3 separate regions of the Homo sapiens genome follow, and regions 2 and 3 are each linked to region 1. The links come from fine-mapping of genetic effects on gene expression. A gene starts in region 1. Each other region holds a variant in brackets. All regions are shown on one strand. Distances are from middle to middle.

Region 1 (4,237 bases):
CAATCCATTGTTGTTAATTATAGTCACTACTCTGCTTTTGAACCATAGAACATAAACCTTTTTATCTAACTGTATGTCCTTCATTAACCTAAATCTCTTCATTTCTCACCCAACCGTTCCCAGCCTCTGGTTTCTTTCTACTCTCTAAATTTATGAGATCGATTTGTTTTAGCTGCCACAGATAAGAACATGCAATATTTATGTCTTTCTGTGCCTGGCTTATTTCACTTAACATAATGACGTCCATCCACGTTGCTGCAGATGACGTGATTTCATTCCTTTTCATCTGTGTTTAAACAAGGTCTCCCTCCAGGGATTTTGATGCAACTGAAGTTGGAGAAAACACAGACCTAGGACACTCCTGCAGCTGGGAGTGCGATGGTCTAACAGAGGAAGTGCTATGCCACCAGCTCATCTTTGCCATCCTGGAGCTGTCTAATCTACGACTCAGTTTTCTTTTCTGTCACTACACTGTGAGAATGAGATGAGGAACTGGGTGTGAAAACGGTTTGAAAAGGAGAAGCATGGTTGCACACGCCTGCGATCCCAGCACTTTGGGAGGCTGACGAGGGAGGACAGCTTGAGGCAAGGAGTTTGAGACCAGCCTGGGCAACATGACAAGACCCCATTTCTTAAAAAAAAAAAAAAAAAAAAATTTTTTTTTCTTTTTTGAGACGGAGTTTCGCTCTTGTTGCCCAGGTTGGAGTATAGTGGCCGTGATCTCGCCTCACTGCAATCTCCATCTCCTGGGTTCAAGCGATTCTCCTGCCTCAGCCTCCCTAGTAGCTGGGATTGCAGGTGTGCCACCATGCCTGGCTAATTTTGTATTTTTAGTAGAGATGAGGTTTCACCATGTTGGCCAGGCTGGTCTCAACTTCCTGACCTCAGGTGATCCACCCGCATCGCTTACCAAAGAGCCAGGATTACAGGCGTGAGCCACTGCGCCCGGCCAAAATTTTAAAAAATCAGCTGAGTGTGGTGGTGCGCGTCTGTGGTCCCAGCTACTCGGGAGGCTGGGGCGGGAGGATTGCTTGAGCCCAGGGGTTGCAATGAGCTATGATTGCGCCACTGCACTTCAGCCTGGGTAACAGAGTGAGACTTTGTCTTTTAAAGAAAGGAGAAAATGGCTTGAACGGGCTAAGAACCTTGACCCCCAGGAGACTCCCTGCGCTGATAGAGCCTCTAGGGCTGGACTCCGCCTCCCAGGGAGCCGGGAGCATCTTGGGGAAGGGCCTGTCTCCATCTGTGTGTCCCGGTGGAAAAACGGTCACGGTGGGGAGTCACTGTCATTATTCATTGAACTCAAGCGCTCCTATTTTGGGTTTTCTCGTTCGGATTTCTGCGCGAGCGAGTGAGGAAGAACTGGACACCCGGGCGGTGCCCTGCGGCTCGGGGCGGGGCCAGCCGCGGTGGCGTGTCCGCAGCCACCTCAGCCCTCCTCCCGCCACATCCTCCAGGAAAGGCTGCTCAGGCCTTCCATTGAGGAGACAAGGACCCGCTGCTCTGGGGCCAGACACACGAGTAAGTCGTGACCCCCTGTGTGAAGGGATAAGGCGTCTACCCTGACGCGGGTGAGAACCCTCTTCACGGCAGACTCCGACGCCCAGTTATGAGAGCGTAGCGGCGCACCACCGCCGGGTCTCTCGGAGAGGGCGCGCCCGCTGGCCAGAGGACCAATCAGTGCACGGCAGGCTCGCAGGCCGCCCCCCCCCCCCCCCCCCAACCCAGGGACCACTCAGGCGCCGGCCGCTGGCGCTGCCTGCTCTTCGACTGGGCGAGCTTCCTGCCAATCAGGGCGGAACCAGCGCGGCGTCGGCCAGTAGCGGGAGGCGGTCGGGTCAGGCCCCAGCTGGGCGCGAGCGGGTCGGCGTTGAGGGAGCCACCGCCCTCCCGCCTGCGCACTGCCTCTCGCCCCCCTCCGGCCAGCCCGCAGCCGGCCGCGTCATGCCAGGCGCTGCTCGGCGGTAGGGAGTGCCCGGGGCCGCCGCCTCCGCCCGCCCGAAGCCGCGCCCACTGCCCAGAGCCAGAGGGATGGTGGTAGTCACGGGGCGGGAGCCAGACAGCCGTCGTCAGGACGGTGCCATGTCCAGCTCTGACGCCGAAGACGACTTTCTGGAGCCGGCCACGCCGACGGCCACGCAGGCGGGGCACGCGCTGCCCCTGCTGCCACAGGAGGTACCCGGGCGGGCGGCGGGCCGCGGGGCGTGGGGAGGGGCGCGGGGGAGAAGCGGGCGCGGGGCATAGCGGTCCTCGGCGGGTGGGCGGGGCCGGGGTTGGGGGCGGGGCCCGCGGACTTGCGCCCCTCCCCCGCCCACCTGCAACTCCCCCGCCCACCTGCACCCCTACCCACCCACCTTCAACCCCTGTCAATTACACCCACTAGGTGTGCTTCCCCACCCCCTACACCCTCCGCCCAGTAGTCACTGGGGTGATTTACTCCCATCGCCATGTCCCACTTTTACCGAAGACAGGAGGGAGGGTGGGCCGTGGGAGGGGGACCCTGGAGCCCCGAGAGCTGATGGTGTGTCTGACCAGGCACCGTAGCTCGAGCCTGTAATCCCAACACATTGGGAGGGAGGATCGCTTGAGGGCAGGAGTTGGAGGCCAGCCTGGGCAACATAGCGAGGCCCCGTCCCTACTACGACTGGAAAAACAAAGGCATTTTGGGTTGGATGAATAAAAAAAAGAAAAGAAAAAGATGTCTTCTAGAGAATCCAACAGGATGCTGTAGTGGTTGCCCACACCTAGTCTCCAGCTACCTAAGGAACAAGGCAAGGAGCTGTCTGCACATAAGGGGCAGGCCAGTTCATAGATGTAGGCACGGTCACCTGGCATCCCATGGCTTTCACTCACAGGCTGCTGTGCTCTGGTGCACAGGGGCTTCCACGGGTCTTACTTAATGTGTGTGATACTATCATGTCAACACCTGAAATGACACTCAAGAGACGGGAGAAGATACCAGGCATGGTGGCTCACATCTGTAATCTCAGCAGTTTGGGATGCTGAGGTGGGAGGATTGCTTGATCCCAGCAGTTAGAGACTAGTCAGGGCAACAGTGAGACCCTGCCTCTACAAAAATGAAAATTAGCCAGGCTTGGTGGTGTGTGCCTGTAGTCCCAGGTGCTCAGGAAGGTGAGTTGGGAGGATTGCTTGAGCCCTGGAGGTTGAGGCTGCAGTGAGCTGTAATTGTGCCACTGTACTCCAGCCTGGGTGTGATAGAGTAAGACCGTACCTACAAACAAACAAAAACAAAAAAAGCAAGAGAAGGGAAACGATGCCAGGTGTGGTGGCTTACACTTGTAATCCCAGCACTTTGGGAGGTCAAGGCAGGAGGATGGTTTGAGGCCAGGAGTCTGGGACCAGCTTGGGCAACACAGACTCCATCTCTACAAATAAAAAATAAAGAGGAGGGAAGGTGAAGCATTACTGGACACCGAAGATGGCTTCTAGGAGGCAGGGACTAAGGTAGTGCCAGATCCAGGAGCATGTGGTATGCGGAGTCCCAGGACAATGGAGGCCCTCAACAATTGAGGCCCTCAACAGGCTGGGCTAGGTGATGCTCTTGGGAAGCAGATAGTGTTGTGCTGGGATTGCAAGCCCCATACACACAATGCCATGGGAAAATGAGCAAAAATCTAGAAGTAATCTCTGCAATTGGAAAAAAGTCATTAGTCACAGTGGTGCTATTTTTTTGTGCACTGTCATTGGGAAAATGATATGGTTTGAGGGAAAGAGCACAAGACCACAGATTGCAGACCAGGGCCCCACCACCAGTTCCCCCCACTGATGACATTGCCCCATGTGAGCTCCAAAACTGTTTCCGATGGCTTTTGTCCTCTCTGCTTCAATCCTCTCATCTCTAATATGGAGCAAGCACTTGGATTGGTATGAAGTATCTTTAGAAAAGGTTTAAAGAGCTCCAGAAATGTTAAGTATTATTATTCCAAAATGATATCTGAGCCCTTGATATACACATAAAATGGTTTTAGAGGACCTACAGAATAAGCGCAAGGCATTTTCATGTCCTGTGGGTGCAGAAGAGTAACAGTGCATACACACACGGAAGTGTAACTACCTGTCTATTTCTTTCATTCATTCGGTGAATTTTGGGTCTTTATTTGAGCCAGGCGCTGCACAAGGCCCTGGGTCAGCTTTATTTAATGTATTTGTACCCTATTTTATTTCACAAAGGATTTGAAAGCTGGGAAAGGTACTGTGTAGATAAGCAGACTTTCAC
Region 2 (4,237 bases), 79 kb before region 1:
AGACGGGCATGGTGGTGTGCACCTGCATTCCCAACTACTGGGAAGCTGAGGCAGAAGGACTGATTGAGCCCAGAACTTTGAGGCTGCCGTGAGCTAGGATGGCACCACTGAACTCCAGCCTGGGCAAAAGAGTAAGACTGTCTCAAAAATAGTAATTGATAATAATGCTGTGATGACTATCCACTTGCATAAATCTGGGCACACGTTTCTGATCCCTTGGTCAGACAATATCCTCGCTTTATAGATGAGGACAGCAGACCTGGAGGAATGATTTGCCAGCCCAGGTCCATCGTCCAGGGCCTATATGGGGAATGCTCTGTCGGGACGGTGTGTTCCCCATTTTTATTTCGGTGTTACCAGGCTCCTGCAGCAGCAGCAGCACCACATCTCAGAGGGCAGGTGAGAAGGAGGGGAAAACGGCCAAACGCAATGGCTCATGCCTGTAATCCCAGCACTTTGGGAGGCGGAGGCAGGCAGATCACCTGAGGTCAGGAGTTCAAGACCAGCCTGGCCAACACGGCGAAACCCCGTATCTACTAAAAATATAAAACTTAGCTGGGCGTGGTGGCGGGCACCTGTAGTCCCAGCTACTCAGGAGGCTGAGGCAGGAGAATGGTGTGAACCCAGGAGGTGGAGGCTGCCGTCAGCCAAAATTGTGCCACTGCACTTCGGCCTGGGTGACCAAGCGAGACTCCATCTCAAAAAAAAAAAAAAAAAAAAAAAAAAGGAGGGGAAAACCTCATTTTCTAACTGCCACCTCTTTTCTTTCTTTTTCAGACCCTTTGCAGAAATCTGCAATGATGCCAAGGTGCCAGGTGAGTCGGAGGCAAGGAAGCCACCCTTCTGCCCTGTGGGGACTAGACTGTTCCTTTTGAAAAAAAGGTAGAGCCGGGTGCAGTGGCTCACGCCTATAATCCCAGCACTTTGGGAGGCAAGCAGATCACTTAAGGTCAGGAGTTCAAGACCAGCCTGAGCAACATGGTGAAACCCTATCTCTACTAAAAATACAACAATTAGCTGGGCGTGGTTGTGGGCACCTGCAATCCCAGCTACTTGGGGGACTGAGGCAGGAGAATTGCTGAACCCGGAAGGCGGAGGTTGCAGTGAACTGAGATCACACCCCTGCACTCCAGCCTGGGAGACAGAGCAAGACTCCATCTCAAAAAAAAAATGAAAAAGACAGAGACACCAGGAGTTGGAGGCTGCAGTGAGCTATGATTGTACCACTGCACTCCAGCCTGAGCAACAGAGCAAGACCCTGTCTCTAAAAAAAAAATTTTAATAAATTTTTTAAAGGCAGAGATAGATGTGGTCCAGGTGGGCATGCAATAGATGGCTTACCACCTTGAAAAAAATATAGCCCCTCTCCACCCTGGTGCCTCCCCAGGGAGCCTGAGGTCTCCATGAACAAGGACAGGTATCCCCAAGAGGCCCCCCGAAACCTGCAGGTGCCCTACAGAGGGAAGGCCCTGCCATAGCACCAATGAGTGTATGAGGTCAGCTAGAAGGACAAGAGGCAGGCTGGGCCTCAGGGAGGATCATGGGGGCCTCCTGGGTAGCAGAGGGGTAGCATGTGACTGACAGGGGTGAGGCAGGCGGGCACTGCCAGAGACTGGCTGGACCCCCTCCGTTCTGCTGGCATCTGCAGGGTATACAGAACCTTTCACCAGGCACCTGGGGGCCACCTGGCATGATGGTTCCGATTAAGGTGTATGATAGGACTTGGGAGAAATTACTCACGGGTGACTATGATGTGCACCCGATTAAGAAACACTGTATCCCAGCACTTTGGGAGGCCAAGGCAGGCAGATCACTTGAGAACAGGAGTTCGAGCCCAGACTGACCAACATGGTGAAACCCTGTCTCAACTAAAAATAGAAAAATTAGGGCCAGGCACGGTGGCTCACCCATGTAATCCCAGCACTTTGGGAGGCCAAGGTGGGCGGATCACCTGAGGTCAGGAGTTGGAGACCAGCCTGGTCAACATGGCAAAACCCCATCTCTACTGAAAATACAAAAATTAGCCAGGCATGGTGATGCATGCCTGTAATCCCAGCTACTAGGCGGGCTGAGACAGGAGGATCACTTGAACTTGGGAGGCAGAGGTTGCAGTGAGCCAAGACTGTACCACTGCACTCCAGCCTGGGAAACAGAACAAGACTCTGTCT[CA/C]AAAAAAAAAAAAAAAAAAGAAAAAGAAAAATTAGCCGGCATGGTGGCGCACGCCTGTAGTCCTAGCTACTTGGGCGTTTGAGGTGGGAGGATGGCTTCAGCCCAGGAGGCAGAGGTTGCAGTGAGTCGAGATCACACCACTGCACTCCAAGCTGGATGACAGAGCAGGACTCTGTCTCAAAAAGAAAAAGAAAAAGAAACACTGATTGGCCAGGTGTGGTGGCTCACGTCTCTAATCCCAGCAGTTTGGGAGGCCTAAGTGGGAGGATTGCTTGAGTCCCGGAGTTTGAGACAAACCTGGGCAACATAATGAGACCGTGTCTCTACAAAAAGTTTTTTCTCCCATCCAACTACTAACCAGGCCCAACCCTGCTTCCCTTCTGAGATCAGGCAAGATCAGGCGCATTCAGGGTGGTATGGCCATAGACCAAAAAGTTTTTTCTAAAAATTAGCCAGGCGTGGTAGTAGGCACTTGTAGTCCCAGCTACACAGGAGGCTGAGGCCGGAGGATCACCTGAGCCCCAGAGTTTACGGCTGCAGTGAGCTATGATTATGCCACTGTACTCCTGCCTGGATGACAGAATGAGACCTCATCTCTTCTTTTTTTTCCCCCCAAGACAGAGTCTCGCTCTGTTGCCCAGGCTGGAGTGCAGTGGCACGATCTCGGCTCACTGCAACCTCTGCCTCCTGGGTTCAACTGATTCTCCTGCCTCAGCTTCCCAAGCAGCTGGGATTACATGCACCTGCCACCACGCCCAGCTGTTTTTTCTATTTTTAGTAGAGACAGGGTTTCCCCATGTTGGCCAGGCTGGTCTCGAACTCCTGACCTCATGATCCACCCACCCTGGCTCCCCAAAGTGCTGAGATTACAGGTGTGAGCCACTGCTCCCGGCCTTCTTTTTTTTTCCCAAGACAGAGACTCGCTCTGTCGCTCAGGCTGGAGTCAATCTTGCAATCTTGACTTACTGCAACCTCCACCTCCTGAGTTCAAGCGATTCTCATGCCTTAGCCTCCCGAGTAGCTGAGACTTCAGGCATGCACCACCACACCCAGCTAATTCTTTGTATTTTTAGTAGAGGCGAGGTTTCACCATGTTGGCCAGGCTGGTCTCAAACTCCTGACCTCAAGTGATCCTCCCACCCCAGCATCCCAAAGTGCTGGGATTACAGGTGGGAGCCACTGTGCCTGGCTGAGACCCCATCTCCTAAGAAATAAAAAAGAAGAAGAAAGAAAAAATATTGATCTAATCTTACCCCACCTCATTGTACAGCTGGGAAGCTGAGGTGCAGAGATGCCAGGGACTTGCCCAGGCCACAAAGTGAGTCAGACGCTGTGCAGACCGTGCTGTCAGGACCATCCATCTGAACCACCACAGGGCCCAGTATGGCTGCTCAGCAGGGACAGTGATAGGATTCAGCAAGGCCACGCCACAACCTGGCCTGAGACCCTAGGCCCTGACTCCTGTCAGGACCAGGTTCACCTGGAACTCCACAGCCTGGGGTGGCATAGCCCAGCTAGAAGCCACCTCCTTCCACCAAGAGCTGATCACAAACCTGGGCCATGTAGTGAGACTGCCCCCGTCTCTGCAAAAAAATTAAAAATTAGTCAGGCGTGGTGGCGCGTACCTATTGTCCCAGCTACTCAAGAGGATGAGGCAGGAGGAGTGCTTGAGGCCGGCAGGTGGAGGCTGCAGTGAGCTATGATTGCGCCACTGTGCTCCAGCCTGGGCAACCGGGTGAGACACTGTTTCCCAAAAAAAAAGAGCCAGTTACAAGGGTCAGGCCTGGCACTGAACATACAGATCTGGAGGCGACCTGGTTTGCTCTCAGGTCAAAGGCAGAGACAGGCCGGGCGCGGTGGCTCACGCCTGTAATCCCAACGCTTTGGGAGGCTGAGGCAGGGAGGTGGGTGGATCACCTGAGGTCAGGAGTTCGAGACCAGCCTGGCCAACATGGTGAAGCCCCGTCTCTACTAAAATCCAAAAAAAAAAGATTAGCCGGGGTTGGTAGTGGGCGCCTGTAATCTCAGCCACTCAGGAGGCTGAGGCAGGAGAATCAGTTGAACCCAG
Region 3 (4,237 bases), 130 kb before region 1:
TACAGCCTCAGCCTCCTGGCTCAAGTGATCCTCCCACCTCAGCATCCCTAGTAGCTGGGACTACAGGCGTGCACCAACACACCTGACTAATTTTTGTATTTTTTGTAGAGACAGGGTTTCACCACATTGCCCAGGCCAGTCTCAAATTCCTGGGCTTAAGCAGTCCACTCACCTCAGCCTCCCAAAGTACCGGGATTACAGGCATGAGTGACGGCGCCCAGACTAGGTGGTCTTTTTTCCGGGAAAGGTGTATTTTACCTTCTACACTGAAGATGTAAGTCATGGGGTCTTTTGTGCCATCTGGTGTGAGGTACAGAACAATAAAGGAGGCAGTTAATGTGTAATAAAGATGAGTGATTGGAAGGAGAGTAGGACTAGTCTCTGGTCTCTCATAGTCATTTACCGAATGAAAATAATAAGGAAGGAATAAATTATAATTTAAGAAGCAGAAGTGGCCGGGCGCGGTGGCTCACACCTGTAATCCCAGCACTTTGGGAGGCTGAGGCAGGTGGATCATGAGGTCAGGAGATCGAGACCAGCCTGGCTAACACAGTGAAACCCCGTCTCTACTAAAAACACAAAAAATTTGCTGGGCTTGGTGGCGGGCACCTGTAGTCCCAGCTACTTGGGAGGCTGAGGCAGGAGAATGGCGTGAACCCGGGAGGTGGAGCTTGCAGTGAGCTGAGATCCTGCCACTGCACTCTGACCCGGGCGACAGAGCGAGACTCCGTCTCAAAAAAAAAACAGAAGCAGAAGTTGCAAACATGCTATGTGACTCGGTCAGGGTGTAACTTCCCTCCTGGCATGATAAATTTATAGAGGGTCCTGAAACTTTTTTTTATTTTATAGTTGCTAGGTTCTCTGCACTGTCAATCCCATAACAATTCTTCGAGGTAGATACTGCTATCCACTTTTTGTTTGTTTGTTTTTGAGACAGAGTCTTGTTCTGTCATCCAGGCTGGAGTGCAGTGGCATGATCTCGGCTCACTGCAACCTCTGCCTCCTGGGTTCAAGCAATTCTCCAACCTCAGCCTCCCCAGTAGCTGGGATTACAGGTGCCCACTACCACACCCAGCTAATTTTTGTGTTTTTAATAGAGACCACGTTTCACCTTGTTTACCAGGCTGGTCTCGAACTCCTGGCCTCAGATGATTCACCCGCCTTGGCCTCCCAAAGTGCTGGGATTACAAGCATGAGCCACCACGCCCTGCCCACATTTTAGAAAATGAATTATAAGGCACAGAGAGTTCAAGTACCTTTCCAAAGATGACACAGCTAATTAGACAGCAGACTAGGTGACCTGACCCCAGGACTTTTGCCCTTGACCTCTGCACTACCTTGTTGAGCAGAGCAGTAAATATTTCATACATAGCTTTATCCAGAATTTTCCTGTTGGTTGTGGTAAACCATGTTTTGTTGTTTTGAGACAGGCTCTTCTTCTGTTGCCCAGGCTGCTGGTGTGCAGCGACACAAACACTGCTCACTGCAGCCTTAACCTCCTGGGCTCAGGCTATCCATTTCAGCTTCCGGAAGTGCTGGGATTACAGGAATGTGCCATCATGCCTGGCCTCACACTACATTTTAATGCTTTTTTTGAAAATGAAAACTTTTGGCCAGGCACAGTGACTCTCACCTGTAATCCCAGCACTTTGGGAGGCTGAGGCGGGCGGATCACGAGGTCAGGAGATTGAGACCATCCTGGCTAACATGGTGAAACCCCATCTCTACTAAAAAATACAAAAAATTGGCCAGGCATGGTGGCGGGTGCCTGTAGTCCCAGCTACTTGGGAGGCTGAGGCAGGAGAATGGTGTGAACCCGGGAGGTGGAGCTTGCAGTGAGCCAAGATCATGCCACTGCACTCCAGCCTGGGCAACAGAGTGAGACTCCATCTCAAAAAAAAGAAAATGGAAACTTTTACCAGTGATTCCCTTCCTTCAAACTAATGATAAGGAAATGATGCTGTTCTGTTTTGTTTTCTTTTTGCATGTTTTTTTTTTCTTTTTTGAGAGAGGTTCTTGCTCTGTTGCCCAGGCTGGAGTGAGGTGGCGCAATCATGGCTCACTGCAGCCTCGACCTCCCAGACTCAAGCAATCCTTCCCCCAGCCTCCTAAGTAGCTGAGACTACAGGTTGTGCTACCACAGTTGGCTAATTTTTGTATTTTTTGTAGAGACAGGGTTTCACCATGTTGCCCAGGGTGGTCTCAAACTCCTGGGCTCAGCTATCCTCCACCCTTGGCCTCCCAAAGTGCTGGGATTACAGGCGTGAGCCACTGTACTTGGCTGATGCTGTTCTTTTCAAACGCATATTTACTTTTTTTTTTTTCTTTTTTTTTTTTTTTTTTTTTGAGATGGAGTCTCACTCTGTCTCCCCGGCTGGAGTGCAGTGGTGCAATCTTGACTCACTGCAGCCTGGTCTTGAACTCCTGACCTCAGATGATCCACGTGCCTTGGCATCCCAAAGTGCTGGGATTACAGGTGTGATCCAC[C/T]ACACGTGACGATTTTGCTCATTTTAGATACTAGAACTTGTTAATTAAAAAAAAAAATTTTTTTTTTTGAGCTGGAGTGCAGTGGTGTGATCTCGGCTCACTGCCACCTCCGCCTCCTGGGTTCAAGCGATTCTCCTGCCTCAGCCTCTCGAGTAGCTGGGACTACAGGCACATGCCACCATGCCCAGCTAATTTTTGTATTTTTAGTAGACAGGGTTTCACCATGTTGGCCAGGATGGTCTTGATCTCTTGACCTCGTGATCCGCCTGCCTCGGCCTCCCAAAATGCATGAGCCACTGCACCCGGCCAAAAAAAATGTTTTTTGAGGCAAAATCTTACTCTGTCATGCAGGCTGGAGTACAGTGGCACAGTCACAGCTCACTGCAGCCTCGAATTCCTTGACTCAGGTGATTCTCCCACCATAGTCTCCAAGTATCTGGGACTACAGGTGCACGCCGCCACCACACCCAGCTAATTTTTGTTTGTTTATTTTGTTTTTTGAGATAGAGTCTCACTCTGTTGCCCAGGCTGGAGTGTAGTGGCGCGATCTCGGCTCACTGCAAGCTCTGCCTCCTGGGTTCATGCCATTCTCCTGCCTCCACCTCCTGAGTAGCTGGGACTACAGGCGCCTGCCACCACGTCTGGCTAAATTTTTTGTATTTTTAATAGAGACGAGGTTTCACCATCTATTAAAGCCAAAATGGTCTTGATCTCCTGACCTCGTGATCCGCCGGCCTCAGCCTCCCGAAGTACTGGGATTACAGGCATGAGCCACCGCACCCGGCCCACACCCAGCTAATTTTTTTTTGTATTTTGTAGAGAAAGTGTTTTGCCATATTGCCCAGGCTGGTCTCAAACTCATGGGCTCAAGCGATCTTCCAGCCTCAGCCTCCTAAAGTGCTAGGATTACAGGCATGAGCCACTGCTCCCAACCTTTTTAATTCAATTTAAATTATAAATATGATCGCTATAGAAAATACGTGTATTATTTATCTGCTGCTATGTAACAAATTACTCCAGACCTAGTGGCTGAAAATAAATACTTAGGACCAGGCACAGTGGCTCATGCCTGTAATCCCAACACTTTGAGAGGCCGAGGTGGGAAGATCACTTGCGTCCAGCAGTTTAAGATCAACGTGGGCAACATAGTGAGACTCCATCTCTACAGAAAATGCAAACATTAGCCAGGTGTGATGGTGCACACCTGTGGTCCCAGCTACTTAGGAGGCTGATGTGGGAGAATCACTTGAGCCAGGGAGGGAGAGGTTACAGTGAGCCAAGATCACACCACCACACTCCAGCCTGGGTGACAGAGTGAGACTCTGTCTCAAAAATAAATAAATAAATAAATAAATAAAATATTTACTTAGGAACTCCATTTCTGTGAGTCAGGAATTCAGGAGTGGCATAGCTGGGTCATCTGGGCTCAGGGTGTCTCGTGACATTGCAGTCAAGCTGTCCTCTGAGACTGCAGTCACCTAAAGCCTGTTTCCAAGATGGCTCACTCATGTGACTGCTGACCGGAGGCCTCAGTTCCTGTCACATGAGCCTCCCTACAGGCTGCTTAGGTGTCATGGTGTGACAGCTGGCTTTCCCAAGTGAGTAATCAAAGAGTGAGCAAGGAGGAAGCCATAGTACCTTTTATGATGTAGCTTGCAAAGTTGCAAGCCATCACTTTTGCTTTTTCCTATCTGTCAGAAGGGAATCACGTAACCCAGCCCACACTAAAAGAGATAGGAACTGGGCTCCG

Direction of the effects. Positions count from the first base shown, and alleles are read on the strand shown. Sizes are in standard deviations (SD) of each study's normalised expression. Not every link is listed here.
For the expression in macrophages of the gene that starts at base 1,848 in region 1, C is the high allele of the variant in region 2 and CA is the other (moderate effect, 0.57 SD a copy in Nedelec 2016).

What was found. PIP is the estimated chance that this variant, and not a neighbour inherited with it, causes the effect.
Region 2: its variant is fine-mapped to the expression of KCTD7 in macrophages (Nedelec 2016, PIP 0.95).
Region 3: its variant is fine-mapped to the expression of KCTD7 in whole blood (TOPMed, PIP 0.93).

Annotation. Positions count from the first base shown.
Region 1 is chr7:66,627,034-66,631,270 of GRCh38, forward strand. It overlaps KCTD7 (potassium channel tetramerization domain containing 7), which reads left to right and starts at 1,848. Exons shown (of 4, transcript NM_153033.5): 1 at 1,848-2,175. The coding sequence starts at 2,032. RefSeq lists silencers at 429-628, 1,639-2,208.
Region 2 is chr7:66,548,098-66,552,334 of GRCh38, forward strand. It overlaps the pseudogene RABGEF1P1. Among named protein-coding and RNA genes, the nearest start is that of LINC03011, 57 kb to the left of the region's middle. The variant CA/C (reference allele first, on the strand shown) is at 2,169.
Region 3 is chr7:66,496,272-66,500,508 of GRCh38, forward strand. No RefSeq gene overlaps it. Among named protein-coding and RNA genes, the nearest start is that of LINC03011, 4.8 kb to the left of the region's middle. The variant C/T (reference allele first, on the strand shown) is at 2,488.